Regions from separate parts of the Homo sapiens genome. Here regions 2, 3 and 4 are each reported to be linked to region 1. The links are microRNA targets in miRTarBase. Many come from high-throughput screens and were not tested one by one. Region 1 holds a microRNA gene; each other region holds the end of a gene's coding sequence. Distances are between the middles of the regions.
Evidence for each region. Region 1 holds the annotated microRNA hsa-miR-615-3p (UCCGAGCCUGGGUCUCCCUCUU, at 2,825-2,846, shown strand). A microRNA usually pairs through its seed, bases 2 to 8, with sites in the 3' UTR of a target mRNA and lowers its output. Matches are read on the target gene's strand: a 7mer-m8 pairs with bases 2 to 8, a 7mer-A1 pairs with bases 2 to 7 and ends in A, and an 8mer does both.

Region 2: the mRNA of SSH1 is a reported target of hsa-miR-615-3p. The part of its 3' UTR that is shown has no 7-base or 8-base seed match.
Region 3: the mRNA of SF3B2 is a reported target of hsa-miR-615-3p. The part of its 3' UTR that is shown has no 7-base or 8-base seed match.
Region 4: miRTarBase lists ARPC5L as a target of hsa-miR-615-3p. The part of its 3' UTR that is shown has no 7-base or 8-base seed match.

What each region holds. Positions count from the first base shown.
Region 1 is chr12:54,031,186-54,038,300 of GRCh38, forward strand. It overlaps MIR615 (microRNA 615), which reads left to right and starts at 2,765; the gene lies at 2,765-2,860. It overlaps HOXC5 (homeobox C5), which reads left to right and starts at 1,865. Exons shown (of 2, transcript NM_018953.4): 1 at 1,865-2,391; 2 at 3,093-4,176. The coding sequence starts at 1,938. The coding sequence ends at 3,307. It also overlaps a transcript of HOXC4 not described here. RefSeq lists enhancers at 1,380-1,674, 1,669-2,820 and a silencer at 2,904-2,963.
Region 2 is chr12:108,782,155-108,789,269 of GRCh38, reverse strand. SSH1 (slingshot protein phosphatase 1) reads left to right here. Exons shown (of 15, transcript NM_018984.4): 15 at 26-7,115. The coding sequence ends at 1,282. Among named protein-coding and RNA genes, the nearest start is that of MIR619, 51 kb to the left of the region's middle.
Region 3 is chr11:66,068,122-66,075,236 of GRCh38, reverse strand. It overlaps SF3B2 (splicing factor 3b subunit 2), which reads right to left. Exons shown (of 22, transcript NM_006842.3): 21 at 6,904-7,089; 22 at 5,929-6,563. The coding sequence ends at 6,492. PACS1 (phosphofurin acidic cluster sorting protein 1) reads right to left here and starts at 4,965. Exons shown (of 24, transcript NM_018026.4): 1 at 4,395-4,965. The coding sequence starts at 4,750. RefSeq lists silencers at 4,021-4,225, 4,286-4,435, 4,446-4,575, 4,726-4,775, 4,786-5,405 and 1 more and an enhancer at 6,953-7,112.
Region 4 is chr9:124,875,838-124,882,952 of GRCh38, reverse strand. ARPC5L (actin related protein 2/3 complex subunit 5 like) reads right to left here. Exons shown (of 6, transcript NM_030978.3): 6 at 5,220-6,075. The coding sequence ends at 6,013. It overlaps GOLGA1 (golgin A1), which reads left to right. Exons shown (of 23, transcript NM_002077.4): 20 at 384-443; 21 at 999-1,169; 22 at 1,696-1,782; 23 at 2,343-4,678. The coding sequence ends at 2,423. Among named protein-coding and RNA genes, the nearest start is that of ARPC5L, 17 kb to the right of the region's middle. RefSeq lists an enhancer at 1,616-2,169.

The DNA of each region.
Region 1 (7,115 bases):
ACCAGTAAAGAAGCACTATCCAGGCACCAGGGTCTCCTCCACCCACTCCCGGGAGTTGGAGGCGGGGGGCGCCGTGAGAGCAAGCCCCAGGCCCGCGCCAAGCTGGCTGTTGCGAAACGTAGCGGAGGCGGAGAGCGGAGGGAAAGAGAAGACCGCGGGACTGGAGCCCTGTCGGCAGGGATTGAGCGATTCAAGGACATCTCGAGAGAGAAAGCCTGGAAACTGAGCTCTCGCCTGCTCTGGTACTCCTGACGTGGCCGGGACAAAATTCCTTCTTCATTACAGCTCCAGCCGGGCTGGTTCCTTACTTTTCTCTCCTCAAACGGGTGAAGAGGCGGGTGAGGAGCGCAGCCGGACCCTAACCATTTATCAACCCTGGCCTTCTCTCTCCAAGCCTGGCCAGAGAAACCTGAGTGGGCCTACAGGGAGAGGTGTTGAGGAGGGTCTCCGGAGGGAAAAAATCCGCCAGAGTTTTCCGGGCCCTTCAGATTCCCTCCAGCGCCCCCACCCTCGCCTCCAGTGCCTCCACCAGTGAGGAGGGGGCCTTCTCCTGGCGGGGCGGAGATTTCCTGGGAAGAAGCAGGCAGGGAAGTATGAGACTTGGGGCTACGGGGGAAGAGGATGGGGCCGAATGGCTGCAGATACCCTGCGAAGGCTACCCAGGCGCCTGCCCTGCCCACCCCCCAGGTCCGCCCCATTCCTCTTGGTAGCTCAGAAATTGCTCTCTTGTGAACCTTATGGATTCAGGTCCCTGGAAAGCCTAGCCCAGAGACCTTTTCCCCAAAGGGCACATAACGGGCCTTTTCCTCTGCCATGCTCACGTAATATTTGTGGAGGCTTCAATCTTGCTTCTCCATGTCCTCAATTAACATCTATTTTCTGTCTAAAACCTCTGGCATAGGTACCACATAAGGATCGCACACAGGGAAACAGAGCAGTCCTCTAGACCATTGTCTGGCTCTGTCCGTGTCCACACACACACTTGAAAATTGCCTTGTTGCCACTCTGGGGACCCTAGCATGGTGAGGTCTAGCCAACTCCACCTGGCTCCTCACCTCCAGATCCATCCCAAACAGCCTGCAACACCCTCAGCTTCATGACCCCCCTATCTTGTTCTGACCACTCAGGATCCCTCCTCCTGGGCGTCCTGTCTACCTCTTCAGAAGCTAATTCTACTTTCTCTTGCTGATAGGCACCTCTTCAGCAGTAGTGGAGCCTTAGGGCCTGAGAGGCAAGGGACTTCTACCTTTGGTTTAGGGAACCTAAGTTAAACCCCATTGGTTCTCCAGCCTGGGCATAGGCCACCTTACCTAACTTAATCCCCTTTCCTCAGCCATTTTTGAAGATTGGAAGACCCTGGAGGTTGGGAGAACGGGACTTTCATTACAAAAAGCACTCTGTGCGTTATAAGTGGGGCCTCGTCTTTTCCCAATTTTAAATAGAATTTAAAAGGCTAGCTCAGGGGTTGCCCCAACAACCAGCTTCTCCTTCACAGTGTAGGAAATCCAGCCACCGGAAAGCAAGCTGGCGCTCCAGGATGCAATTCCCCCACATAGGCACCAGGTGTCGCTGTGGGCTTGTTGTCCCGGCTACCCCCAATTCCAAGAACCTTTTTTTTTTTTTCCCTCCCCCTTCCCTCTTTCTCTCTCTCACTCCCTCTCCCCCTTGGTTGGGCTTTGCCAACATATCGAGATGCTTTTCGCCGGCTTCCATCACTAACCTCCCGGAGGTCATCAAGCCAAATTTATGAGTGGCCGCTCGAGTCACGTGACTCTATTTAAGGCTCCCTTATTTGGGAAGAGCGCATAGGATAAAGAAAGAGATATCTCCACCTATAAATTGTCCACTTTGGAGAACAAAAAACCCCTCAACTTCAAAGAGTCACAAATCACCCTTAATCAAAAAGGGTGCAGAAATTTTTTTGGGCCCTCCCCGCCATGAGCTCCTACGTAGCCAATTCATTCTATAAGCAGAGCCCCAATATCCCTGCCTATAACATGCAAACTTGTGGGAACTATGGATCGGCCTCAGAGGTGCAGGCATCCAGGTACTGCTACGGCGGATTGGACTTAAGCATCACTTTCCCACCGCCTGCGCCTTCCAACTCTCTCCACGGGGTAGACATGGCTGCCAACCCCCGGGCTCACCCCGACCGCCCCGCCTGCAGCGCCGCGGCCGCTCCGGGACACGCTCCGGGCAGAGACGAAGCGGCTCCTCTGAACCCCGGGATGTACAGTCAGAAGGCGGCTCGCCCGGCGCTGGAGGAGCGAGCTAAGAGCAGTGGGGAGATCAAAGAGGAGCAGGCGCAGACAGGGCAGCCCGCCGGACTGAGCCAGCCACCGGCCCCGCCACAGATTTACCCGTGGATGACCAAACTGCACATGAGCCACGGTAAACTTTAGGACTTCATTTTGCGCTCTCGGGTCCGCCTGGGTTTTATAGGCCATGCGGGGCAAATAAAGAAAAAAAACCTGCGGCCATAAATTTTACGATCCAGGCATCAATGGCTCGTAAAACTGTCCACTAAAAGGCTTAGAGGCTGTGTGCGCCCAAATTTACGACGACATAATTGGATCATAGGAACAAAACGTGTATAAAAGGCAATATTCAATTTTTGGGGGAGAGGGAGGGAGTTAAAAAAATAGAGGGATCTGAAGGGTGAGGAGCGCGGGGCTCCAGAGCGGGGATCCCCCCGCGGCTCCCTCCCTCCCTCCCCTGCGGAGCCGGCTCCGCCGGCGCTTGCGGCTCCGGAGGATTCCAGCGACTCGGGAGGGGCGGGAGGGGGGTCCCCGGTGCTCGGATCTCGAGGGTGCTTATTGTTCGGTCCGAGCCTGGGTCTCCCTCTTCCCCCCAACCCCCCCTCAGCCCCTCCGGCTGCAGAGTGAAGGCTGCGGTGGAAAGTTTCCTGCCTGGGCGGAGGCGCCTCTCCCGGGGCTGGGCTGGGCTGGCCCGCCTGCGGCCCGCGTGGCCTGTCTTGCGGCTCTCGCCTCCTCTCCCTCCGGCCGCGGGTGGGGGCCTGGGCTGGGGTGGGGACGGGGGAACGCTGCAAGCTATTCACCCCTTCCTGGCTTGGGGTGGGGTTTATGTTCCAGAGACGGACGGCAAGCGGTCCCGAACCAGTTACACGCGCTACCAGACTCTGGAACTCGAGAAAGAATTCCACTTTAACCGCTACCTCACTCGCCGCAGGCGCATAGAGATCGCCAACAACTTGTGTCTCAATGAGAGACAGATCAAGATCTGGTTCCAGAACCGCAGGATGAAGTGGAAGAAAGATTCCAAAATGAAAAGCAAAGAGGCTCTTTAGAGGCAGCGGGGGAGGCCCGCAGAGCGCGCCCCTAGCCGGTTCCTGTCCCTGCGCCTTTCCTTTTCGCCTTTCCTCTCTATATTTCGGGTCGGGGGCAGGTGCTGGAGCACTGGGCTCCCGGGCCCCACAGACAAAAGCGCTTTTCCTTGGCATTCCGCATCCCTACCGACCCAGGGTTCCCGCGGGGCTGTCGGCGCTGCCCCATCTCCCCTCAGCTCGGCTCAGCTCGGTACCCGGGGCCCAGGGCAAGCTCCGCAGGACTTCCCCGGAGGGCTGCGGCGTACAGGCTGGCGCAGAACGAACCTTGGCCTGGGCCGTATCTCCGGCTCCCAGCCTCAGCGCGGCCCTCCCGAGTTAAGGTGGGCCCGGCCCGCGCCACAGGACCCTCGCCGGACCCTCTAACCTCGCCCTCTCCTTTGTTCCCGGCTGGACGGGTTAGACAGCCAAAGGCTGGCGAGAGTCTGGCCCTAGACTCGGGGTGCTTCCTTGTAGCGACTAAACTAGATTTTCACTTATGAATGATTTGCATATGAAAGGAGAGCATCGGCCTAGGGCCCCCACAGTTGCTCTATGCTTTCCAAACCTTATCTCCACAACCTCTTCCCCCCAAAACCCGGGAACCTCCCCAGCCTGCGCCTGCTGCATGCCCTCTCAGGCCGGCAGCCCCAGCCTGCTAGCTAGCTCAACTAGTGGGGTTTCCTGGCACTGGACCCCAGCAAGTGGTCCTAGAGGCCCTTTGCTGTCCCATAGTCCCTGCCACGAATTTCTGTGCCCTCCTGACCCATTGCTGTTGTCCAACTATTTATTGACTCTGGGTCCTTCCTGAAACTATATTTTGTCATATCAAATAAAGAGAGAACAGGACTAAAGATGCAGTGGCTCCTGTCTGTTTGGGGCATGTATTGGGTAAAATTGTCTAAATGGGCTGTGAGATGTAGAAGGAGACCCACAAACTTTAAGCCACCCCTTTAAAAAATTTTCTAGCTTCTAGGGGCAGTGAGTAGAGGGAGGTGAAATTGAGCTCCTTTCCTGTTCCTTGGCTGCAACAAGAGCCTCTGGGGGAAGAGAAGGGCACCTAGGCCTCGAGTACTGGCTTTTCCCATGCTGTGGCTGTCCAAGGCCTTCACGCCTCTGCACTCCAGGAGGCCTCTGGACTGGCAGCAGCCCCCACTGTGTGCCAAAGCTGCGGTGCAGGAACCAGTGGCTCCACCGTGCTCAGCCTTAGGACCTTCTGGGCCTCTGAAGATCTTTCCTGGGCCTAGGTGGTCCCTGAGAGGCCTTGCTGGACATAGAGGGAGGGCTGAGCCCTCACTCTAGGGACCCATTTGGTCTCATAAGGGCCTCTAGAGGGAGGTGGTATTGCTTGGTAAGGGGGTGTTGGGAGAGTTGGAGGAGGTGTGCCTCAGTATCTAAGATACTGGGGAAGAGGGAGCAGGGAGGACAATCTGCAGTGTGTATCAGCCTGGCAGGAAATGTTCAGACTGTTTCCACCACCTTCTAGGGCCTCGGGCTATGCAGGACAATTAACTGGGAAAGGAGCTGCATAGACCAGTGCTGGAGTCACGTCTGTCTGCCATCATTTATCTCAGTCTCTGGGATTTTGTGTGGAGGGGAGGATGGGTTAAAAGTGGGGGTGGGAGGAGGCAGATAATTCAGGTAGTGTCTGAGGATCAGGTCCTTCTCCAGGCTCCTGGGATGGGCTGGGGGAGGAAGCACTTTACAGTAGAAACAAATGTGGGAAGGGTCCATAAAACTTTACTGCATTTCCTCTCCCACCTCCCACAACAGGGTGATTTCCTGGAGCCAAGCCTAGGCCCCCCACACTGGTGGGGTGAGGGTCTGGAGCTTGGCTAAGGGATTGCACCAGCAGCCAAGAAGAAAGGGGAGCAGAGGGGCTCTGGGGAGGGGCAGGGGAATATTTATGATTATTAATGCTGATGCTCCTTGGATTTATTATAAGGACTAACTTCGCTGCATCCCACTGCCTAAGCTACCCATCAGTCATTTTTTAAAAGACCCAAGAGCCTTTCCTCACCCCATGCTTGGCACATAGGCAGTCTCAACAAATGCTTATTGAACAGTGCCCACAACTACCACCCTTCCCCTTCGCACTGCACTCAGGCCAGGTTAGGGCGCCTGTTGTCTCTCCTCAACTTGCACACAGCAGTTAACCCAGACCAGTGCTCTCTCTCTCTCTCTCTGAAATAAAATGTGTAATTTTCTTCAGGGAGTTATTTTAATTTTTTCTCCATGCTGAGTAAAACTATTGAGTGAGCAGTGAAGCGTGGAGAAGCACTGGCGTCTCCGGTGGGTAACAGTTAACTAAGAAAGAGGCTGTGGCACCCGCACCCACCTGTTCCAGCCTCCCAGGCTGCCCAGGCCCTGTGCTTCCTCCCCAGGGGACAGGCGCACCACCCCAGGGGAAAACCAAGGGCTTTGTCATAGATAGGGGCAATGTTGGTTAGAGCTGCCAGGCAGGGCACACCAGCCCCACCGTGCACTGACTGCCTCCTCCCGGCAGGGTTTGGGCCTCTCCTTCCCTGGAGGAGCTGAAGGTCTGACTCATTTTGGCTTGGGTAGACACAGAGTGCCTGCCTGCCCTCCTCCTTCCTGTCACAATCTGCAGGTCTGCCCAGGCACCAGCCTTGGCTTCTGCAGCATCGTCGGGAGTCAGCGGCGGCAACCAAGCCAGAGGCCTCGTACCTACTTCCCTACGCTGAGGGTGCATAAGGCCCAGATCCCTGATTTCTCCCTGAACAGGGGCTTCTGCTTTGGGGCCTGGGGTAGTTTCCCCACCAGCCAGCCTCCTAGAACATATTTCCAGGTAACAGGGTCTGGCATTGCTCTGGGGGAGTTTATGGAGGGGTCTTCTGGGTTGCAAGCAGAGACTATGGAGCCTGCCTCTCCACTTTGCCCTGGAACCCACCCCCTCTGGCAGCAAGAAAGAAGGGGAAGAAGCATGACTTACCTTCCCGGGGGAGTGGGAAGAGGGGGGACACGGCCCACTCTGAGCAATTAGAGGAAAGAGGAGGAAAAAATAAGAGGACAAAAAGATCAACACGACCTCGAAGGCGACAGGTCCTTATGGAAATAAGTAAGTAAATAAATAAATAAGGATCCACCCTCTCCCCCCTCTCCACCCTGCAAGGGGGATGTGGGGGTGGGGCAAAGGAACAGCACCAGGGCTTTTTAGTGTAACTGAGCATTAGAGAAATAGGCATGCTTCTATGTGAATTTAGGAGTTTGAAACTTTTGGAGGTTATTTATGTGAATAGCCTGAAGGCAAGCCCGTGAGTGGCTCTTGGGGGACCACGTGATATCATTAAACCAAGTTTTATGGTGTAGGGAGAGCTGACAAACCCACAATATATTTACATCATATATAATCTTAACTGTCCAGCCACGCAGCTGCTGGTGAGGTTTAATGCTAGGACAGAGGGCCTGGCAGTTAGAGGGGATTACGGCGCTGGGGACGATGGTGAGAGAGGTTACATCTTCGCAAATGAATCCCAGGCGAACGCTGTGAGTTAATTCTCTCTTTCTCTCTCTCAGACCCTTTCTCCCATTTACCTAACCACCCCCCTCACTTGATAGAAGGCAGCTCCCACTTATTAGGGGGAGGGGGAAAAGGCCTTCCCAGGCTGGGGTGGGAGAAGAGAAGAAGCAGCAGAAAAAGCTGCTGGGAAGTAGGAAGATGGGGGAGCTTGTCTACCCTGAGCAGCCCTCCCCTTCCCACTCCTTATTCTCTCTGACTGCAAGTCAACTGGGGTAGAGAGGCCTTGGTTGTTTAGAGATTTGCCAGGTCTTC
Region 2 (7,115 bases), 55 Mb from region 1:
CATGCTCTTGTCCCCTTCCTTGCAGGATGATGCTATATTTGGGATCCTTAACAAAGTGAAGCCTTCCTATAAATCCTGTGCCGACTGCATGTACCCTACAGCCAGCGGGGCTCCTGAGGCCTCCAGGGAGCGATGTGAGGACCCCAATGCTCCCGCCATCTGCACCCAGCCAGCCTTCCTACCCCACATCACGTCCTCCCCTGTGGCCCACTTGGCCAGCAGGTCCCGTGTTCCGGAGAAGCCAGCCTCTGGCCCAACCGAACCTCCCCCGTTCCTACCACCAGCAGGCTCCAGGAGGGCAGACACCAGTGGCCCTGGGGCTGGAGCTGCCCTAGAGCCACCAGCCAGCCTTTTGGAACCTTCCAGAGAGACCCCAAAAGTCCTGCCAAAGTCCCTCCTTTTGAAGAATTCTCACTGTGATAAGAACCCTCCCAGCACAGAAGTGGTAATAAAGGAAGAATCGTCACCCAAGAAAGATATGAAGCCAGCCAAGGACCTGAGGCTTCTGTTCAGTAATGAATCTGAGAAGCCGACAACCAACAGCTACCTGATGCAGCACCAGGAGTCCATCATTCAGCTGCAGAAGGCAGGCTTGGTCCGCAAGCACACCAAAGAGCTAGAGCGGCTGAAGAGCGTGCCTGCAGACCCAGCACCTCCCTCCAGGGATGGCCCTGCCAGCAGGCTGGAGGCCAGCATCCCCGAGGAGAGCCAGGATCCAGCCGCGCTCCACGAGCTGGGCCCCCTGGTTATGCCCAGCCAGGCCGGGAGTGATGAGAAGTCAGAGGCCGCCCCCGCTTCATTGGAAGGAGGCTCACTGAAGAGCCCCCCTCCTTTCTTCTACCGCCTGGACCACACCAGTAGTTTCTCAAAAGACTTTCTGAAGACCATCTGCTACACCCCCACCTCCTCTTCCATGAGCTCCAACCTGACCCGGAGCTCCAGCAGCGATAGCATCCACAGTGTCCGTGGGAAGCCCGGGCTGGTGAAGCAGCGGACACAGGAGATTGAGACCCGGCTCCGGCTGGCGGGCCTCACCGTCTCTTCCCCACTGAAGCGCTCACACTCTCTTGCCAAGCTGGGGAGTCTCACCTTCTCAACGGAAGACCTGTCCAGTGAGGCTGACCCGTCCACCGTCGCTGACTCCCAGGACACCACTTTGAGTGAATCTTCCTTCTTGCATGAGCCCCAGGGAACCCCGAGGGACCCAGCTGCAACCTCCAAACCATCAGGGAAACCCGCCCCAGAAAACTTAAAGAGCCCTTCGTGGATGAGCAAAAGCTGACCCGCCTTTTGCTGCGTCAGGCTGGGCGGATATTTTCATATGATCCCTCCCTCACTTTCACTGTGGATTTGGATCGACCCCTTACATCTTGATTTCCCTTAAACGAGTGAAGTCATCCTAACTTTTCCCCTACTCTTGCCATAGAGAGGAGGAGAAGAAACTAACCAACATGCAGCACAAGAAGGGGAGCTGTCAGTCGTGTGGCCTGGGAGAACCAGGAGCCGCCGGCCAGGAGACACAAAACTCCGCTCCCACCGTGTCTTCAAGAAGAACCATGTTTTAGGAAGAACGTGCACACATAGGCGCACACATCCAGACTGTTCCCTTCGCATCCTGCAGAAGAGTCCTGGTGGTGGCAGCCTCACCGCGGCACACGTTCTAGCTCATTCTTGGCCTCGCAGAAAACTCTCGGATGGCAACATTAAGTCCTACCTCTGTTCTCGCTGCGCTTTTTATTTTTAAAACACACGAATGACCAAGGCTTGTTCCAGGGAATAATGCTCTGTCTGAAAGCGTTTTTCCAAAAAAAGAATTTTTCGTTTTGTGTTTTGGTTGGGACCCCAGACGTGTCAAGACTTTTAACCCGACAGCCCCAAGCACTGCTGAGTAAAGTCATCAGATGAGTAGTCCCACGCTGTTGTTGAGCTGACTCTGTGCCCGAATGGTGGTGCAGGCGCCCTGTCCTGGTTGTGTTGTTACGTGTTTGACCAGCACAGGGGTCCGGTGGGGAAAATGTATGGGTTGTTCTCAGTTGTTGCTAATGCTGAAGTTTAAATCTCAAGGGGAAGGGCCCACCTGCATTGTTGAGTGTCTGCTGCTGAAACACATGATTGTGTTTAGGTTTGAAATTGCTCAAGTGTCTGGCTCAGGTGGTGGTTCTGAGACACATCGTCCTGCTGAGAGCCCAGATGCTTAGGTCCACTAGGGCCCATCTAGGGAAGGGAAAGGAGATTTCAGCGGCTTCCCCGAAAGGAACGGGACTGTCGGGATGCTTCCCGGATGTCTACAGTTGCCCCTTCCTGCAGTGAGATTACTGCTTCCTGTTTCCCTCCAGCTCTTCCCAGCAGCAGTGAGGGAGTATAAGAGGGATCTGTAGTCGCTGCCTGGCTCTGTGGGCGGCCCCTTTAAGACTCAGGTGAGCTCAGCCAGTCCCGCTGCGCCAGGCTTGAATCAAAGGTGTCAGCAAGCTAGATGTCAAAACATTTCGAGAGAGAGGCAGCTTGCAGAAAAGCAGAAAGGTTGAATTCAGGGGTCAGCAAACTATGGCATGTGGCCCCGTGAGCTAGGAATGGTTTTTCCTCTTTAAGACAGGGCCTGGCTCTGTCACCTAGGCTGGAGTACAGTAGTGCAATCATGACTCACTGCAGCATCAACCTCCCTGGCTCAAGCGATGGCTTTTACCTTTTTAAGGAGTTGTAAAAAAAAGAAATAATATGTGACAGAATTCATGTGGCCCACAAAGCCTGAGGTACTTACTGTCAGGCCCTTTGTAGAAAAAGTTGCTGACCCCTGGTTTGATTTGCCACACAGGGCTGCTCATGGCCCTGTAGGAAGAAACTGGGTAAATGTGAAGCCCTCTGCCTCTCTGACACCTAAGGCCAGACCCTTCCCTCCTCCCGACCACAAGCTTTGCCAGCCCCGCACTAGCCTCACCTGTGCAGGATGGAGTAGGTTGCGTACATGGGGGAAGGCAGGTGAACACAGTTGGCTGAAGCTCTTCCACAATTCCATCTTGCCCTCAGCTGGGTCCGCCAGATTAACTCAGTGAAACCAGAAAGCCTTCAAGGACCAGCTGAATTCTGAAAGTGAGTGAGTGAGCCATCATCTTAACATTGGCCAGAACTGTGTTCCCCAAAGCTATTCTAGAAAGCACCCCAGGAGGGATCTGCAGGAACAAGGCTAGTTCATATTTTACCTAGTGAGCACAGTTTTTGCAAAAATCCTCCCTCCAGGACTTTGTCTCCTTGGAGTGATTTTTAAAAATACATACATTACTTTATAGGGAGCTGTTTTCCCACTAGTGTCAATTAAAATCACCTTAAAAGGTGATTATCCACTTATTCCTAAACCCCTGTGGGTTGTTCCCCCTTTCCCTCAGCCAACAAAAGCATAGCCTCAAAAAATATCAAGTTCGGTATGTTTTGCCAAATCAAATTTCATGTGGTAGATCAATTTTTGTGTCAAAATAATCTTTTAAATTTAGTGATGACAGGCTTTTGTTGGTTTTTTAACCACGTCTATGTATGAGAATGATATATTTTTGAAAACTTTAATTTTGAAAGCCATAATTTTTCTTATCTAAAGAGTTGGGGGGTGGGGTGTGGAATCTGGAGAGTACAAGTTGGTCTTTGGCTTCTGGCAAACTTACCCATTCATTTTTGGAAGCACAGCTAGCATATCAACATCCAGACGAGAGCGCTGGTCCCGTCCACAGAGCAGAGTGAAGCATTCTGGACTTGATGCTTAATAGCCTGGCCTGGAGAAAAGGGTAAGGTTTATTTTTGGAAACCCAGATCAGTTGCATGTAAACAGATGGCACATGGCTATTTAAAATGCTGTATGATGGGGCCGGGCGCGGTGGCTCACGCCTGTAATCCTAGCACTTTGGGAGGCCGAGGCAGGCGGATCATCTGAGGTCAGGAGTTCTAGACCAGCCTGGCCAACATGGTGAAACCCCGTCTCTACTAAAAATACAAAAACTTAGCTGGGTGTGGTAGTGCGTGCCTGTAATCCTAGCTACTTAGGAGGCTGAGGCAGGAGAATCGCTTGAACCTGGGTGGCGGAGGTTGCAATGAGCCGAGATCGCGCCACTGCACTCCAGCCTGGGTGCAATGAAACTGGGAGTGAAACTCCGTCTCAAAAAAATAAAATGCTGTATGAACAAGATGAGCATTCTGTCAGGTGTCGGGACACCTGGGCAAAGACGAATTCATGCTGTCTGTGAAAAGGAAGTTTGCACTGTAACATATGCCATAGCTTGGCCCTTGCTTTGTATGCAACCTTAGCTGATGGGGAAAATTCCAAACATAAGTGGCACAGGAAAGAGGCAGGCAGAGGAGGCAGGGGTCTGTGCTGTGCAAGTCACTGGTTTTTTATGACTATCATTTTCATTGAATGCATTTGTTGAATTGGGACAAAAGGAACATTTTCTAAATCAGCTTGATACTCTTTATAAAAAACAGCTGAATCTTATCTTCTGCCTCACATTAATTCATGTGGCATGCCAAAAGTTAGACTGAACTTTTCTACATCTTCACCTTGCATTGATACAGGAAAGTCTTCTCTTTAAGTCTTGCTAAGTATAAGGGGGATAGTGGTCACGGGAAGAGGAGAACCGGGGCTGCTCTCGGATGGTAATTGACAATGCCGATTTCCATTTCTTTGTCTTACGGCTACTTCCGAGCCTTCTAGCAAGGTCCCTGGTTGCATGTATTTCCTAAGAGCAGAGTTTATTTCTCTTTACATTCCCTGCTTCCTTGCTCTCCATGCAGGGACCCCAGCCAACCTCTGGGCTGTTGAATAGCTCTCTGCTGGGTGGCAAGCCCTTCTCCTTGGCACCCTGTTGCTTAAGCATACAGATTGCTCACCAGGTGCACACAGACAGCTGTACTGTCCAAGCCCATTCTGCTCCACCCTGTCCTCTTCAGCTAAAGAGCATTCCAGTAATCTAAAGCCCTTTTCCCCTGGAGAAGTCCAGAGTTTGCAGCAGTGTGGAGCTGAGCTTGAACAGAACAGACCCTCAGCACGGCCCTGGACTAATGCACTCTTATCTGAGGGCAGTCCATTCTAGAAGGTTGATGAATTTCCCTACCACTCTCCTGGGGACCTTTTCTCTCTAGTGGGAACAAATGCTACATAATTTAGTCAAGATCCTATTAAGTCATCTCACCTGAGGCATCTGGAGAGGGAGTTGCCTTCCATTGGTGGGAAATTGTTGGTGCCAGAATACATTTTGCCCAAAACTCTTCTCATTGGCTGGCCACCTAGCAGGGCTCCTCTAAACACGCAACTCAGCGAGGGGACCCCCTTCACCTCTGGCAAGAGAGCTGGGTAGATCAGAAACTTGGTGACACCTGGCTAGCACAGAGCAGGCTCACTTGTCTTGGTCCCACTACCCAGATTCCTGCAGACATTGCAAACCAAATGAAGGTTGTTGAATGACCCCTGTCCCCAGCCACTTGTTTTGTTATCATCTGCTCTGCAGTGGAATGCCTGTGTGTTTGAGTTCACTCTGCATCTGTATATTTGAGTATAGAAACCGAGTCAAGTGATCATGTGCATCCAGACACACTGTGTCACCTGAGCCACAGAGCAAATCACCTTAACGATCTGGAATGAAACTGTGACCAGTGCCGCCCTGGGTGGTTCTGGAGAGACTGCCGTCTTCTTGTTTGGCCATAGGTGCTGGGGCCCCGGCTTCAGTCACTGTCTCAGACAGGAGTCCCGATAAGCAGATCACCAGTCCTCCACTGTCCTTCCTGTCGGCCTTGCTGCATGAGAAGATAGCTGCTTCCTCCCTCTTTTCCTACACTGTAATTATTGTTTTACAATTGAGTGCCTTAATAATAGTTTACAAATACTATGTATTTATGCAAAACTGTTAAAGTCTCATCTGTTATGATTGGATACTTGGTCTTGTCAGTAGTGGTCAGCATTGGGTTGTGAGCTTGTCCTACTCCATACGTGTTTATCCTGCTATGCAGTTTTACATTGTGTGTTCACATCTATTCCAAGGAGCCTTGCTAGAAACAACACTGGCGGTTCCTGCAGGCCAGGCAGGCATTGGCCCATGCTGTGTCCCATAGGAGCCAATGAAAGAACGTAGCTTGGTCTGCTAGCCAGCCGTGGGGTGGCGCAGGCCAGGCAGCCTCTGCACCAGAGTCCAGCACCTGCCCATTCCCCAGTCACACAATCATACTCTTCTTTCATAGAGATTTTATTACCACCTAGACCACCCTAGTTTTCCTCTCTGTTAGTGTCCTGAGCTCTTTTGCAACAAAATGTAGGTACAGACCAATCCCTGTCCCTTCCCCAATCAGGAGCTCCACACCATGAGTTGTTTGGTTTTCCAGAAGCTGCCAGTGGGTTCCCGTGAATTGCGTTAAGATATCGATGATTTTTTTTATTGTTTTTCTTCTTGTTTTTTTAAATAATATATTTAAAGGCAGTATCTTTTGTACTGTGAATTTGCAGTAGAAGATGCAGAATGCACTTTTTTTTTACTTCTGTTGGTGTGTATTGTATATAGTGTGTGTGCTTCTTGTGATGAAAATAAACTTTTTCTTTATAAATTCCTGATGACTGAGTTTATATAAAAGGAAACTGCTTCCTCAGCCCTTGCCAAAACAGTCTGATACATCGTCATCATCATCGTCATTGACATGGCCAGTCTTTATTGAGCATCTATTACATGCTCAGTTCTTTGCTAGAAAACCTGGACAAGTTACACCAAAGAAAGGACCACAGGAAGAAATGATAGTTCCTCCTGGAACTAGTCTGTTTTCTTTCTAATTTTGTCAGTAAGCAAGAACAGGCCCACCTGTGGGTGGTCCTTTGTGTACCAAAAAAAAAAAGTTACCCACCAGGAAAGGATTTGGACTTTGGGTGGGTTCTCTTCCCGTACAAGTAGGAAATGTAAAGCCAGAGGTGTGCACTAAAGAACATCTAACCTGCTCCCACCAGCCCTGGTGGGAGAGGGAGGACCCTGGAGGCTAAGTACTGCTGGTTTCCAAGGTGCATGCTCATGTCCCAGTCCACTTCACCCCAGGCAGCTTTTGGTGGCTCTTCTCCCTTGGACACTCAGGAGGCAGAGCTGCTTCCATTTTTTTTTTTT
Region 3 (7,115 bases), not on the chromosome of region 1:
GCATGGTGGCTCACGCCTGTAATCCCAGCACTTTGGAAGGCCAAGGCGGGCAGATCACAAGCTCAGGAGATCGAGACCATCCTGGCTAACACAGTGAAACGCCATCTGTACAAAAAAATACAAAAAATTAGCCAGGTGTGGTGGCAGGCGCCTGTAGTCCCAGCTACTCGGGAGGCTGAGGCAGGAGAATGGAGCGAACCTGGGAGGCGGAGCTTGCAGTGAGCCGAGATTGCACCACTGCACTCCAGCCTGGGCGACAGAGCGAGACTCCATCTCAAAAAAAAAAAAAAAAAAACACCAAAAAAAAATTAATAAAATTAAACTAATGCATGGAAGAGTTTGTCCTAGTATATAGTAAGAAGATAGAGTAGTATATCTTGGCTCGTATAGTGCTTCTGTGGTTAAAGGGGCAAATGCCCCCAAGCGTTTTCATGAAAGTAACACTTCTGCTGCAGACCAGTCATGCCAACTCAGCTATGGCCACCTTCTGTGATTCCAACGCTTTTGTCCATTAAGGCTTGACCTCAGCACCCACTTAAAAAAAATGTGACCTAAGGAGAAAAGTGACTGATAACTGCCAACTCCTACCCTAAGTTCACATACACATAAGGGTATGCAAATGGGCTTTGGATATGGTTTGCGAATGATACAGCAGAGCACATTTCATCTCTTAATAATCACTTTTATGCCACTGAGGAAATTTTGAATGCTTGTAAAATTTAGTAATTTTTCTGCCTCTCCTACTTACAGCAACACAAAAAGAAAAGAACATCAGGGAAACCTCACCATACAAAGGCAGAAGGGAAGGGATCAACAATGAGGCTCTAACACCCTTCCTTTAACATCAAGCAGCATGCCACCTGGTCCCCATAACCCTGCACCACGGTCCATGCCATACTGGACCATAGTAGAGGAAGTACTACTTAGCATGAAGGGAAAACAATGCTAACTTCTAAAGCTTGAATTTCATAAAAGATAAAGGAACTATAGCAAAACTACCTTTTTGTAACAGAATCTTAAAAGCCAACTGTATTTCACAGTGATTACCTCTGGGAAGTGAGAAGAGGGATGGACTGGGGGCTTTTTCCTTTGTGCTTTCCATCTTTCCATACTGCTCAAATTTCTAATCATGGACATATATTAATCATTTTGTCTTTAAAAAAAATGCTGGTAAAAGGCTGGGCACAGTGGCTCACACCTGTAATCTCAGCACTTTGGGAGTCCGAGGTAGGAGGACAGTTTGAAGCAAGGAGTTCAAGACCAGCCTGGGCAACATAGTGAGACCCTGTTTTTAAAAAAAAAAAAAAAAAAAAAAAAAAAGCCAGGTGTGATGTCACATGCCTATAGTCCCAGCTACTTGGGAGGCTGAGGCTGGAGGATTGCTGAGCCCAGGAGTTGGAGGCTGCAGTGAGCTATGACTGTGCCACTACACTGTAGCCTGGATGACAGAGCAAGACTCCATCTAAAGAAAAAAAACAAAAAATGCTGGTGAAAAATGTGATCAACAGAACAATTTCATTCTTTTAAAACCAGCTGTGAGTAAGCTATTCACCTATATAAAGTTTTTCAAAAGTACTATGTATTCTGGGGGAATTTAACAGATGTTAAATAAGAGCAGACACCTACCTGAAGAACAACTACACTGCTCTTTATTTAAATATCTAATACAGGAAACGGTATTTTTTTCAAAAGAAAATTATATTTTGACAGGCATCAAGAAAAGCAGCAGGACCTTCCTAACACTGTACTGTTCGAGCCCCTCTTCTCTGCCCTAAGAGACCAAATCCCATGACATTCTTATGCACACCTAACCTTAGATCCACAATCATGTTTACATTTCTAAGGGGCATGTATCTCATATATTTGTGTCCCGTTTGAGTTACATGAGACAAGAATGTTAATCCCTCCACAGAGTGCTGCATGTTGCCTATATATTCTAAACAACATGAACAAGGACACCCAGGAGACCTCAAATTAACCAGATGACTCTAATAATTGGAAAGACCAATGGCAGGCCATTTTCTCCCCACAGAGTGTTATTCTGGCCTGCAAAATGCTCAAAGAGCACATGTGTTCCACAAGGAGTGAGGAGGTACAAGGGTGATGGATGAAAAACAATGTCGGAGCAGGACAGTGGACAAGCTCAAGGACTGGTCAGTAAACGTGACGTAACTGCACACTCCCGGAATGTAAAAATAAGTCCGCCTAAGCCTCTCACAGCAAGTTAGCATAATAATTATACATTTGATCAGGATGCCTGGCTGTTTCTTAGGCTAATAATTTATTACGTGGACTTTGCAGTGACCAAAAGACCTAGGGGCAGACCAAACATCAACAGCAGTCAATGATTTCATTCACGCCCCTCTGCTGCAGCTCCTTGCCAGTAGGCTCGCGCCTTTTCAACCTAACGAGATGGAGAAGGCAGCTGCCCAAACGTCACCAAACACAGGCATGAAAGTGAAGGAGAAATGGGAAAGACTGGACCCACGTAGGAAGGAACACAGTGTTTCTATGTGTGAAAGAGGTGGGTTAGGATACTTCAGCGATAGATGGGCCTGTATAGAAAGAGAGAGGCCTGCTTAGGATCAAGAGAGGAACACCATCACATACTCAACTCTCGCTTGAGCTTGGTGTTGTGCTATGGATCTGGCCACAGCAAACTAAATTAATGTGGCTCCTGATTTCCCTAGAGAAAGGACAGAGAAAAAAAAAACAATGTGTAAATCTGTTAAGTGATGTGGAAACACAGAGTGGAAGCAGCCTGTGGAAACAATCTACTTTTGCCTAGTGAAGTCCCAGATCTATACCCTGCGAGCGGCAATCCCACCCCTCCATATGAATACAACCTAAAGAAACTTCTGCACAAGAGCACTAGGAGTCCTGGGGGGAAATGTGTGCATTACTGTGGGTGTTAAACAGGAAACAACCTACATATTCAAGAGAATTACGGTATATTCATTCACACAACAGAATACTACCCATCATGAAAATATTTAAACTATGGCTACCATACCACATGGATGATTCTCACAAACCTAATGCTGATTTAAAAAAAAATAAAAAAACCAATCAAGTCACAGAACACATACAGGATGACACCATGTACACAAACTTCAAGAACATTCAGAACTATAAAATATATAGAGATGCATTATGTAGTAAAACTAATTTTTTTCTAACAAGGGAAATGATAAACACAATTCAAAATAGTGTTTACCTTTGTAGAAGGAAGAGGGGAGACAGTCAGGAAGGGGCACCCTGAGAGCTTCAACAGAAGCGATAATGCTCTGTTCCTTAAGCTGAGCGAAACAGAAAGATGTACTCTCATCATTCCTATCTGGGATATATATATAAAACAATATTATCCAGAATAAAGGTGGGGAAAGGAAGACAGTCGAGGGGGGAGCCCAGCAATCCTCTCTAACTCTGACTTACACATCCGTCTGCCTAACCAACAGTGAGGAGACAGCCCAAGACTTCAAGGCAACAGAATCAACTCAGCTACAAGGTGACAAAAAAGAACACCTCCAGGCACTTCTCTGGGCTTTCTGGGTGAAACCAGCTCCACACACCGTCTTATTCAAGTGGCAAACTGTAAGACACAGCACCCTGTCCCCAGAGTTGGAGACAGACTGCCTTGCCAATACAAAAACAGAAAATATTCCCAAACTCAGGCCTATTTTGCCAATGGAAGGAAAGTCCCCAGATGGTTCCAACAGACAGAGAGCAATGGATTGAATTTAGGAACAAGGCAGTAATTTCATACAGCCCTGCAGAGCTGGGAGATTCTGGGACCAGTTTTAGTGGGGGAGGGGAGGTAAAAATACACTTGAGGACACATTAAATAGGGCCCCAAAACTAAGAGCCTAGCGCTTGGGACAGAACGTGTGTAATATGAAGTTCAAATGAACATGTGTGCCGAAGGCTAATGAGAAGCCCCTAGGGTGATTATATGAGCTTTACCTGCAAGAGGTGACAATCGAGTTTGGCACATGCTGAGTCTATTGGGAAATAATAATATCAAGAGATCTATACCACATCCATGTATGTACAGCTCCCGGCGCCGGCGAGGCAGGAGAGTGACTTACTCAGGGAAACTGACTGCCAGGAAGGCCGGATTCGGTCAGCCCAATCGGAGAAAGCCCGGGGCCGAGGCCAGAAGGTCCCTCGGGGAGGACAGAAGGGTGGTCCCGGCCCCAGGCAGAAGGTGGGGCTGCCAGGAGAGGGCGGGTCCCCGTGGCAGGAGTCCCGGGAGGCCTGGCTGGAGCCAGGCCGGGCCGCGGGACAGTCGGGGAGATGGAGGGCGGGGACCCCATGGGCGCTGGGGCGGGGAGGGCTGGGCCCCGGCGGCCACCCCGCTCCCCCGGCGCCCCGCCGCACCCTCCCGCGCTCACCTAGGCACGCAGCTGGACGAGCTCCGGTCCACCTCCCAGGTGGCGTACAGGTTCATCTGCACCGGGGCGGGGGTGCGGCCTGGCCCCGGGCCACCGGGAGGCGCGGAGCCCGAGGCCACCGCCACGGCCATGGAGGTGGAGGTAGACGAGGACGAGGAGGAGGCAGCCGCCGCCGAGGTGGACGAGGACGACGAGGTGGCCTGGGCCAGCTTGGGGGGCGTCGGCTGCTGCGGCGGCTGCTGCTGCTGCTGCTGCGGCGGCGGCTGCTGAGGGGACTGGGCGACCCCGGATCCCCGCTGGCCGCTGCCGCCCCCGGCGCCTCCGGGACCACCGCCCGCCCCTCCGCGTTCCGCCATGGCCCGGCTAGGCGGGGGTTACGGAGGCCGAGGCGACGCCGATCTGGCTCCCAGGCTTCCCCCGCGGCGGCGGCGGCGGGGGCGCGGCAGCCTCCTCAGCCCGCCTGCCCGAGCGCGAGCAGCCAGCGAGCTGCACGCACGCGCGGGGCCTCTGGGCGCGCGGGCCTCGCGCTCGACCGCCGCTGCCTGTTGCGGCTCGCGAGGCCGACACGGGTGGGCGTGTCCGGGAGGGGGCGGGGAGCCCGGCCCGCGCGGCCCCACCCAGCGCGGAGGGGCCGGGCCGGGCGCGCTCGCGCCCTGCGTGCAGCCACGCGCGCCCCTCGCTCCCGCGGAGTAGAAGGGGTGGTCTGTGGCCAGCGCGCGCCCACGGGTCCTGCCCTCAAATCCGCTGCCAGTCTGCCCCCGCTCCTCCCCTCCCCGCCCACGGCCGGCCGCGGCCCCGCCAGCGGAAACCCGGCTTTTCCGGGATTCGGTCCCTGCAGGGAGGGGGCCGCCGCGGGAGCGCGCCTCGGCCCCTCGGGTCTTCGGAGCCAATGCGGAACCCGCCCCCAGCGGTGGGGGTCTGCCCGGGGAAGCCGGCTCTCCGCCTGCCGACCTAGCCCTGCCCTGCGGCCCCGGCAAACAGAGAGGTCGGCGGAGACCCGGGGCCCGCTGCCACCGCGGGTGCCTGTGATCCGGGAAGTTCCCGCCCCGAGGGCAAGCGGGGGCTCAGGGACCTGGAGTCCAGAAGGTTCTTCGCATAAGTGAATTCTCAAGCTACCCCGGGGCCCATCTGGAGCCAACCTTCCTCTTCTTTCCCTACCCCCCAAATGCCTCTTTAGAGTGCCAGTGCTTTGTTGCTTACCAAATTTCTAAAATTCCATTCCTCCTAAGGCCTAGCTCAGCTGCCACGTCCTATCTGGATCATGCCCCCCACAACCCCGAGACCATCTTGAACCCTCCGGCAAGTGAGCGCCTCCACTGGTGCACTTAAACACCAACAGTAGTACAACAGCAGCGCATGACTACCCTCCCCACAGGCTGGCAAATGCCCATGGGAGCCAGTGATCCAGCCTGCTCTAGTCTGTCAGAAAGGCTGCTCAGGACCAGATTACAACCTGGAGAAAGTAAGTCCCCCCATCCCACATACAAATCCCAAACCCCAGCGACTAGTGTTGCTTGAACCCAAGGGTTCATATGGACTCAAGACAATTTAGCTTTTGAGCTATGTTGTCGCACAGGTAAGGACTTGAACTTCTGGTCACAAGGTCAGTTGGGAAGGCCTGCCCTGGCCTACTTCCCAAGCCCACTGTTACTTCCTCTGCCGCGCTAGGGCGCTAATCTGGCTATTTTTACTCCCCAAGGACAAAGTAGTAAGGTCAAACCAGACCTAGAGGTACTTCCCCCAAGCCTTCCTACAAAGCAGGGCAGTGGTGAAACACAGATTTCAGCCTGGGGTTGGCGTCACCACCAGTCAAATGCGCCGTCTAATCCCAGTTTATGTTCGTGGTTACTGGGGCAGCCCAGTGATTGTAGAAAGAGACTATTTTAGTCCTTTTGCAAGAAGGGGCTAAAAGGAGATGAGGGAGGCTCAGGAGTGTTAAATATTCATCTCTTTCCTTGGGAAACAGCTTTATTTACAAAACAGGTCTAAAATAAGAACATGAAATGACAAGTCCTTGGGAACTGCGGGAGAGGTGGTTCTTGTGTGAAGCCCAGGCATCCAGACGTAGGGCCAAAAAAAGGGCTAGTGTGAGGGGACCTAAAACTTGAACTCCTTATATTTCTTGCTGCCCCCACGGCTGTCCTGGGGCTGAGCTTTCCGTTTTTTTTGCTGTATAGGGAGAAAGAGACACAGGTTAAGACAGGTTGAACCACCCCCGGACCCCCAAAACAAGGGTGGGCAGCCTGACATAGACATAGAAGTCTGTGGGAAAGGCGCTGAATCTGAATTCTCTTCGAGCTCCCTCTCAGACTTGGCTGAGTTCCTCCCCCTCATCGTCCTTAAAGAGGGCAGCCCACTGGAGGATTTCTAAGACTTCCAAATCTAAGGAAGCACAGAGCAGCAAGCAGAGGCCACCCTCACTCTCACCACTAGAGGGCACCATGCCACTGAAAACGGCAGGCCAGGGTCCCTGGCTCTCACCCAGCCCAGCGCCCCTGGAAGCGCCTACCTTCTGTTTGGCAGCGTGCTCAGCCACCATGTCACTGAAGTCCTCCTTCTCTACTTGAGCCTGCTGCTCCCGCACATGCTCCTCATACTTCTGGGTCATGGCCATAGGATCCAGCTCCAACTCTTCAGGCGCCAGCGCCACTTCCACACCTTGCAGCTCAGGAGCCGGGCCCTTCCGGCTCATAACCTGGAAAGGAGATCAGGGCCTGGTCA
Region 4 (7,115 bases), not on the chromosome of region 1:
CCTACTTGGGGATCACAGCATAAAAATTGAATTTTGAGGGCAAAATCTATGGTCCAGAGCCTTTTCCAGCTGGGCTGTGTGTGGTGGACCAAGCCCCCGGGAAGGGATAGGCAGCGCTGGGGCACTCATGTCAACACAGAGGGACTGTGGCCCCTGTGGGACGTGGAGACTCAAGCGTGTGAAAGCAGTGGCCCAAGAGGGATGACAGCCCAACAGTCGTAGGCACAAGCATGCGACAGCTGAGCACCAGCCTCTCAGGATGACTTCTCAGGGCAGAGGCTCCTCACAGGTGTACAGGGGATCCCGTGGGATCTTCGGGTCTGTTTCCTTTGGTGAAACATGCATCTAACGATTGGCTTTCTGTGGGGTGGGGCTTGTCGCAGACCATAAAGCAGATGCAGCAGCGGATGCTGGAGCTCCGGAAGACTCTGCAGAAGGAGCTGGTGAGTACTCGCATGGGAGCTGGCCCCACTTCCCAGCACTCCCCCTGCTGCCTGTGCCCGGTCCTCCTGAGGTCCCTCGCCGCCTGACTATGCTCCCTCCACCCCCTAATTAATTGCAAGGGATCGCTGGGCAATCCAACGTTAGCTGGTGGGACAGCCTGCCAGCCTGCATGCACCTCTGAAGCAGCTCCGTGGCTACAGCCCTGTTCCTGCCTTCTCTGAGCCTGCATCCTCATCTGGAAGTGGGGTTGCCTGCCACGCCAGCGCAGTGATGCTCTAACAGTGTGTGTGTGTGGCAGAGTGCTTGGCCTGATGCGGGATGCGAGCAGCTTCAGGCCCCAGGGACATGTGTTCTTGCCATGGAAAACGGAATGTCTGAATTTACCCAAACGATGTCACTCCCTCCTCAAGCCTACCTGGAGGTGCTTCCTTCCCAGGTGGGGCCCTTTTTGCCCTACGATAGTGATCATAGTTTGGACCAGGTGAACCTCCCGTGTGATTTTTTCCACCTGTCTCAGAGGGTTCGGTGTAGCATCTTTCCCACTGGTTTTTCAGAAAATCAGACCCGATAATGAGCTCTTCGAAGTCCGGGAGAAACCTGGACCTGAGATGGCAAACATGGCGCCTTCCGTCACGAATAACACTGACCTGACAGATGCCCGCGAGATCAACTTTGAGTACCTTAAACATGTGGTTTTAAAATTCATGTCTTGTCGCGAATCCGAGGTAAAGGGCTTTTGAGGTGTCTTTTGGGTATTGAGGCCCCGCCCTACAGTCTGTCCTGCAGGGACCCCTGCCCAGCCCCTTTCTCTCTTTTCCTCGTACATCCTGGTTTGACGCCCTTGTGGTCACCCAGTCATTTCTCCTGCTGGCGTTGGCCTGCGGAGTGAGCGGCTGGCGGGAGAGGCCGTGCAGGAACTGGCTCCTGGTGGGAGACATAGGCTCCACTTCTAAATCCTGGCCTGGGTGCTGAGGCCAGAGGCCGGAAGCCGGGAACGGAATCCACCCATCGCTCCTGGGTCCTGCCAAAGGGTAGGGTAGCTGCTGGGGCAGTTCCCTTAAGCCTGCCAGGCCCCCGAGGATGCAGGGGAAGAAAGAACCTATCATTGCTGCCAAACTTCAGAGTGCCAGAGCGTCACCCACCACCTGGTCCTGCTAACCAAAGCAAGCAGGAAATGCCACGTAGCTCCCCCGACCCCACCCCGCCTCACCTTCACCAAGGCCTATGGCAGCAAAACTTACTGTGTTTCAGGCTTTTCATCTTATAAAAGCTGTGTCAGTGTTGCTGAACTTTTCCCAAGAGGAGGAGAACATGCTCAAGGAAACTCTGGAATATAAGGTAGGGTTCTCTGGTCTACTGTTCCAGCTTCCAAGATACGTTGTCAGTTATCCCAGCAGTAGCAGTGTAAGACCCCTTAGACCCACACCCGAGTGTAGGCACCAGCACAGCTGCATGATCAGCTTGGCTGCTTTTGGATGAACTTGATCCAAGCACTTTTTAGCGATGACATCCTTTGTGCCCAAATGTCTGTGCTGTACTTGACCAACAGGCCACGTATTTTTCAAAGCATTTTCATTGATAGCGCTTTATCGAGAGCCCCAGGTCTGGCTCGGCACTCAAATTCCAAAAGCGTCTGCATAAATGCTCTAATAGGAAAAAATACCTGCAGTTCCACTACCTTGTTCCTGTCAACTCAGTGTTTTTCTCTCATTTCCCTCCTGTACTGAGCACGGGCCTGCAGACTGGTTACTGGCACCATCTTCTTGCTCTGCTCAGAGCCAGAGGCAGGATGTGTGGGGGGCAGGAGTGACAGGCTCACGGGAGGGGAGGGGCGGTTCAGTTTCCCTGGCACCAAGTCCTGATTTGCATCTCAGAAGCCTTTTCTGTTTCAAATGCAGATGTCATGGTTTGGGTCCAAACCAGCTCCCAAGGGCAGCATCCGGCCGTCTATCTCAAACCCTCGGATACCATGGTCCTAGAGGGGACTACCCAAGGATGGAGCTCCGTGGGTTGACACTTTTTCTGTGAAAAGAACACTGACACACCAGTCTGGGTGGGTTTTTAATCACTGTAACTGCAGTATTTTGTACAAGTGTCTAAACATTGTTTACAAGACTAAGGCCCACTTCCCTGCAGGCTGACCTGAACCTCAGGGGGTAGCTGATCCTGTCATTCTGGTCACCAAACAGGAGGGTCCTGGCACTACCCAGATTTCCACAGTGCTGCTAATATCCCAGCTCCAGCCAGCACCCCATCTGCACCTGAATCCTCTAACTTCACGGTAGCACTTACAGCTGAAGCCATCAGCATCTGGCAGGCACACCTGAGTCACCATGTAGCGCTGCTACTGGAGGTAGAGACGGCCCTTTGAGATGGTGCCCAGCAGGCCAAACCCACCTGCCTCTGCCAGGAACAGCCAACTCCATGGGAACTCTATGGGAGTGGCTTTTAAAAATTCAGATGAGTTAGAAGCTTTTTATCCCTTCCTCTCAAGAAAATATTCTTTCACCCTGTCTCTCAAACCACCTAGAACTTTAGAGGATCCATCTTTAAGGGTCGGTGTGGATGAATGAGAAAATGCACCTTTCTGACAGTATCTCCACTTTACTTAAGAAAACTAGCAAATATATGAAAAGACCCTTAGTACCAAATACACTCAATTGCCTTTTTAATGAATGTACTTGTCTTGGATAGGTTGCTGGTAAACCATTTTAAACTATTTTTTATAGCTGAAGTTCTTCACTACTATAAACATGTCTTCTGTACTATAAAATCCATTTAACTGGTGTTCTTAAAATCAGAGCGTCCAGAGGAAATTCTTCCTAAAACTAGGATTCCTGTTCCTTTGTCTTCTCACTCGCACTCTGGCACTGCTCCCTCTGAAGTGCAGTGGGATCTCGTGTGCTTTGTCTTGATTCTGTGCTGCGCTGCCGCTGGGCGATGCAGACCACCTGTCTTCTACTGAAGGACAGTCCGCTGTCTCCAGTGGGGGCAGCAGCTGTCCCCCAGCCTCGATGGAGACACTGGGGCAGTCTGCCTTGTCTGTGGAGCTGCTCTCTCTCCCTCATCCCACCCCAAATACTTAAAATGACACTACACCCAGACGGCGCCCAGCTGGCTGCAGCACTTGTAGCATGCACATGACTCTGGTAGTAACCAACAAAAACTTGTTTTATGGATTCCTCGTTTACTGAGGAAAGGGAACATGCTGGTTCTGGAAAAGCCACAATATTGAATCTAAAAGGAAACCGTTTATTGTTTGATGAAAGTTTCACTGGTTAAATAAAAAACTAAATTAATAACTGGAGCCTCTAAATTTATTATCCATTATCCAGTGATGGAAAGTTGTATTTCTCAATCATGCTTAGGGCCAAAATAGGTATATAAAATGTGTCACAGAAAAACACGCATTTGCAACGTTAACCTAACGAAATTTCCATGAAGAACCAAGTCAGGGCAGCATCTCCTTAGTCCCAGCTCAGGCTCTCTGCCTTCCAGAGGCCGCTTCTCCAGTGACTAACCTCCTCCTCTGGCTCCTCCTTGCAGACAGTTATCCCTTGTTTAGAACACGAATTTCCATTTACCTGGTGGGAACACGAAACAGGAGTCTCTTCTGTTCTGCAAGTTTGATGGGTAAGAGGTAGCCTTTTTTCAAAGTAGGATTTCCTTTTTCAACTGTTCCAGGAAAGAATCTCTAAGACTGGGTAGCTCACAGCCAGCCAAAGGCAGCTACATTTCCACAGAAGCCCATCCGCTGCCTCCGTGGCTTCTCCAGCCATTGAACTGGTCCCACACGCACCCCAGGCCCCACTCCTCGGCAGTTTCAGGTGTAGCTGTGGGGCCCGTTCCTAGGTCTGTACTCACTTTAGGGAGGCTTCACTGACTAGGCTTTCCTCCTGCATGTTGAATTTCCTTCAGCTTTAAGAGGAAGAGTGGAATAAATATTCTAAGTGATTTAATGCACTTTGACTTGTATAAAACTTTCTGTGTTAGCGACGGTATCTATAGCCCTTTATACGAGCGATGGATCTTGAGCTCTCCTTCCATGTTGTAAATAGGGATTGTATTCTTGAAAACTGCTGTAGCAAATTCATCTGTGGTGCAATACACTTTTTGATTAAAGCTCTTCAATCCAGATGCAACTACAATGGATTTTACTAGTTTGGTGTGTCAGTATTTCTTTGACTCATTAAATCTGGTATTTTGTGTCTCATATTTAACACTCCAAGGCCAACCTCAAGGGCTAGAGAATGTTTGTCTTTCTTTCAGAAAGAACCTTCCCAGACTGGATTTGGGTGAATAAATATACGTAATTTAATGAAGCCAACAGCCCCATTCTACCCCCCCCAAGAATTGCAGTGGTTCTGAAGAGGGACTGAGGAGGGGAGAGCTGTGGAGGGGAGGACTGTGTCACTTTGGTCAAAGTCTGTATCCAAAGGCTGTATGACCCAGAGGAGCTTCTGGAGTGTGAATGGGGCCCTAACCTTTAACAGAATGCAAGCTGCAGTCACATGTGCTGAAAAGGAAAGAAAAGCATTTTTGCCCTTCAGAGAAGCTCTGTTATTGGTTATGGGGAACCAAATTATACCATCTATTTGCTGATTGATTGCTCCCCATTTCTGACGTTTAGTTCTTTAAAGAAAGCTTGTCCATGCAGCAGTGATTCTGCAGCACAGCCAACCCAGCATCAGGAGACGTGACCAGGCACATCTGAGGCCCCACCCTCAAAAGATTCCAAGTGCAATCCCACAAACTGAAGACTTTTAAAGCCTAGATCAATTATTAAATGTTTGGCACTTTATTAAATTAATTAAATAAGCTCCAAAATTAATTACATACAAATCAAAGGAATAAGAAACAATAAATAGTTTATTCAGCAAACACCTCTCTGCAGCAGCCGGCAGCTCTGAGGCCGAGGCTGGCGTCCTGTGGCAGAGGGCCTGTGGATTGCCATGCTCGCTCCCAGGGGTGGCTCAACAGGGACACAGGTCTACTCCTTCCACATCGGGTTTCCGGAACAACAACTGAACTCTCATTCATTACCATCCCATTCATTACCATTTTTTTTTACATACACGAAACACACCGCAATGTATAGACTAATAAGCCAAGAGCTTTATTGATGCAGCAGGCACTTTACAATGAGCCCAAGAGTGTCCACCTTCTCTGGGAAGACAGGATGTCTGTACAAACTCTTGGGTTTTTTTCCACTTCAAAAACACAAGCTCTCCCGTTTACCACAGCCCTTGGATCTGCACCTGCCCAAACCATCCCTCCCCCAGTGCACACAGGTGCATCTGACCAACACCAGCCGCCACGCTGGTAGACCGTCAAAATGTCAGTTCTGCAGTACTCGGAGACAAAGGCATAGACTATCAGATCCTAAACAGGATTTAGGAAACAGACGATTTTCCCCTCCACCTTGAAAATAAAATACATTTCAGCAGATACATGTCCTGAAATAGTTTACTTGGGAGTTCCTAGGAAGATGGTCCATTGTCAATCCCTTCTTCACCAGCCTGGGCATCCAGAATTCTTCTCAAGGTAACATGAGTCTTTTTATTTTTTTTAAACAGTCTTTCTTGCTGTAAGAACTCTTATAATGGAGCCTAGTCCTCCTACTGCTAAGGCCTGTGGGGGCAGGAAAAGAAAACGTGTCAGATGAGACCTGGCTGGCCAAGGGGAGCCTGGCTTGCCAGAGACAGGGGGGACATTCCCTGACCTAGATCCCGTCACAGATCCTCGAAAGAGGATTCCTGAGATAGAGCACATTCTAGGGAAGGAGCCCTGTCCTGGAGCCGTGGGGTCCCGAGAGCTGTTGGCTCTTGGGCAGAACTGGCTTGAGAACACTGTCACCAGCACACAAAGCAGAGCCCTCGAGCTTCCCTTTTGAGATGGGGTCTCACTCTGTTGCCCAGATCACAGCTCACTGCACAGCCTTGATGTCCTGGGTTGAAGCCATCCTCCTGAGTAGCTGGGACCACAGGTGTGCACCACCAGGCCCGGCTAATTTATTTTTTTTGAGACGGAGTTTCGCTCTTGTCACCCAGGCTGGAGTGCAATGGCACGATCTCGGCTCACTGCAACCCTGCCTCCCCAGTTCAAGCGCTTCTCCTGCCTCAGCCTCCCGAGCAGCTGGGATTACAGGCGCCCGCCACCACCCCCGGCTAATTTTTGTATTTTTAGTAGAGACGGGGTTTCACCATGTTGCCCAGGCTGGTCTTGAGCTCCTGACCTCAGGTCATCCGCCTGCCTCCGTCTCCCAAAATGCTGGGATTACAGGCGTGAGCCCACCGCACCCAGCCTAGTTTATTTTTTTGTAGAGATGGGTTCTCACTACATTGCCTGGGCTGTTCTTGAACTCCTGGGCTCCAGCAATCCTCCTGCCTCAGCCTCCCAAAGTGCTGAGTTTACAGATGCACACAAGCCCACTGACTGCCGCCCGCTGAGGTGACTGGCAGGCACCAAGCTGCCTTAAAGGGACGAGAGGTCCTGGCCTCCCCATCATACAGAGGACTTGTTTACTTCCTTGAGCCCAGGAGAGGGGAGGCCAAGGAGGTGCAGCACACCCGCCAGCAGACCTAAGGCCACAACCACAGCCCAGCACCCACACCACCTTAAGGACTGGCCCACTGTAAAACCCCTCTCTTCCAACTCAACACTGAGCCTCT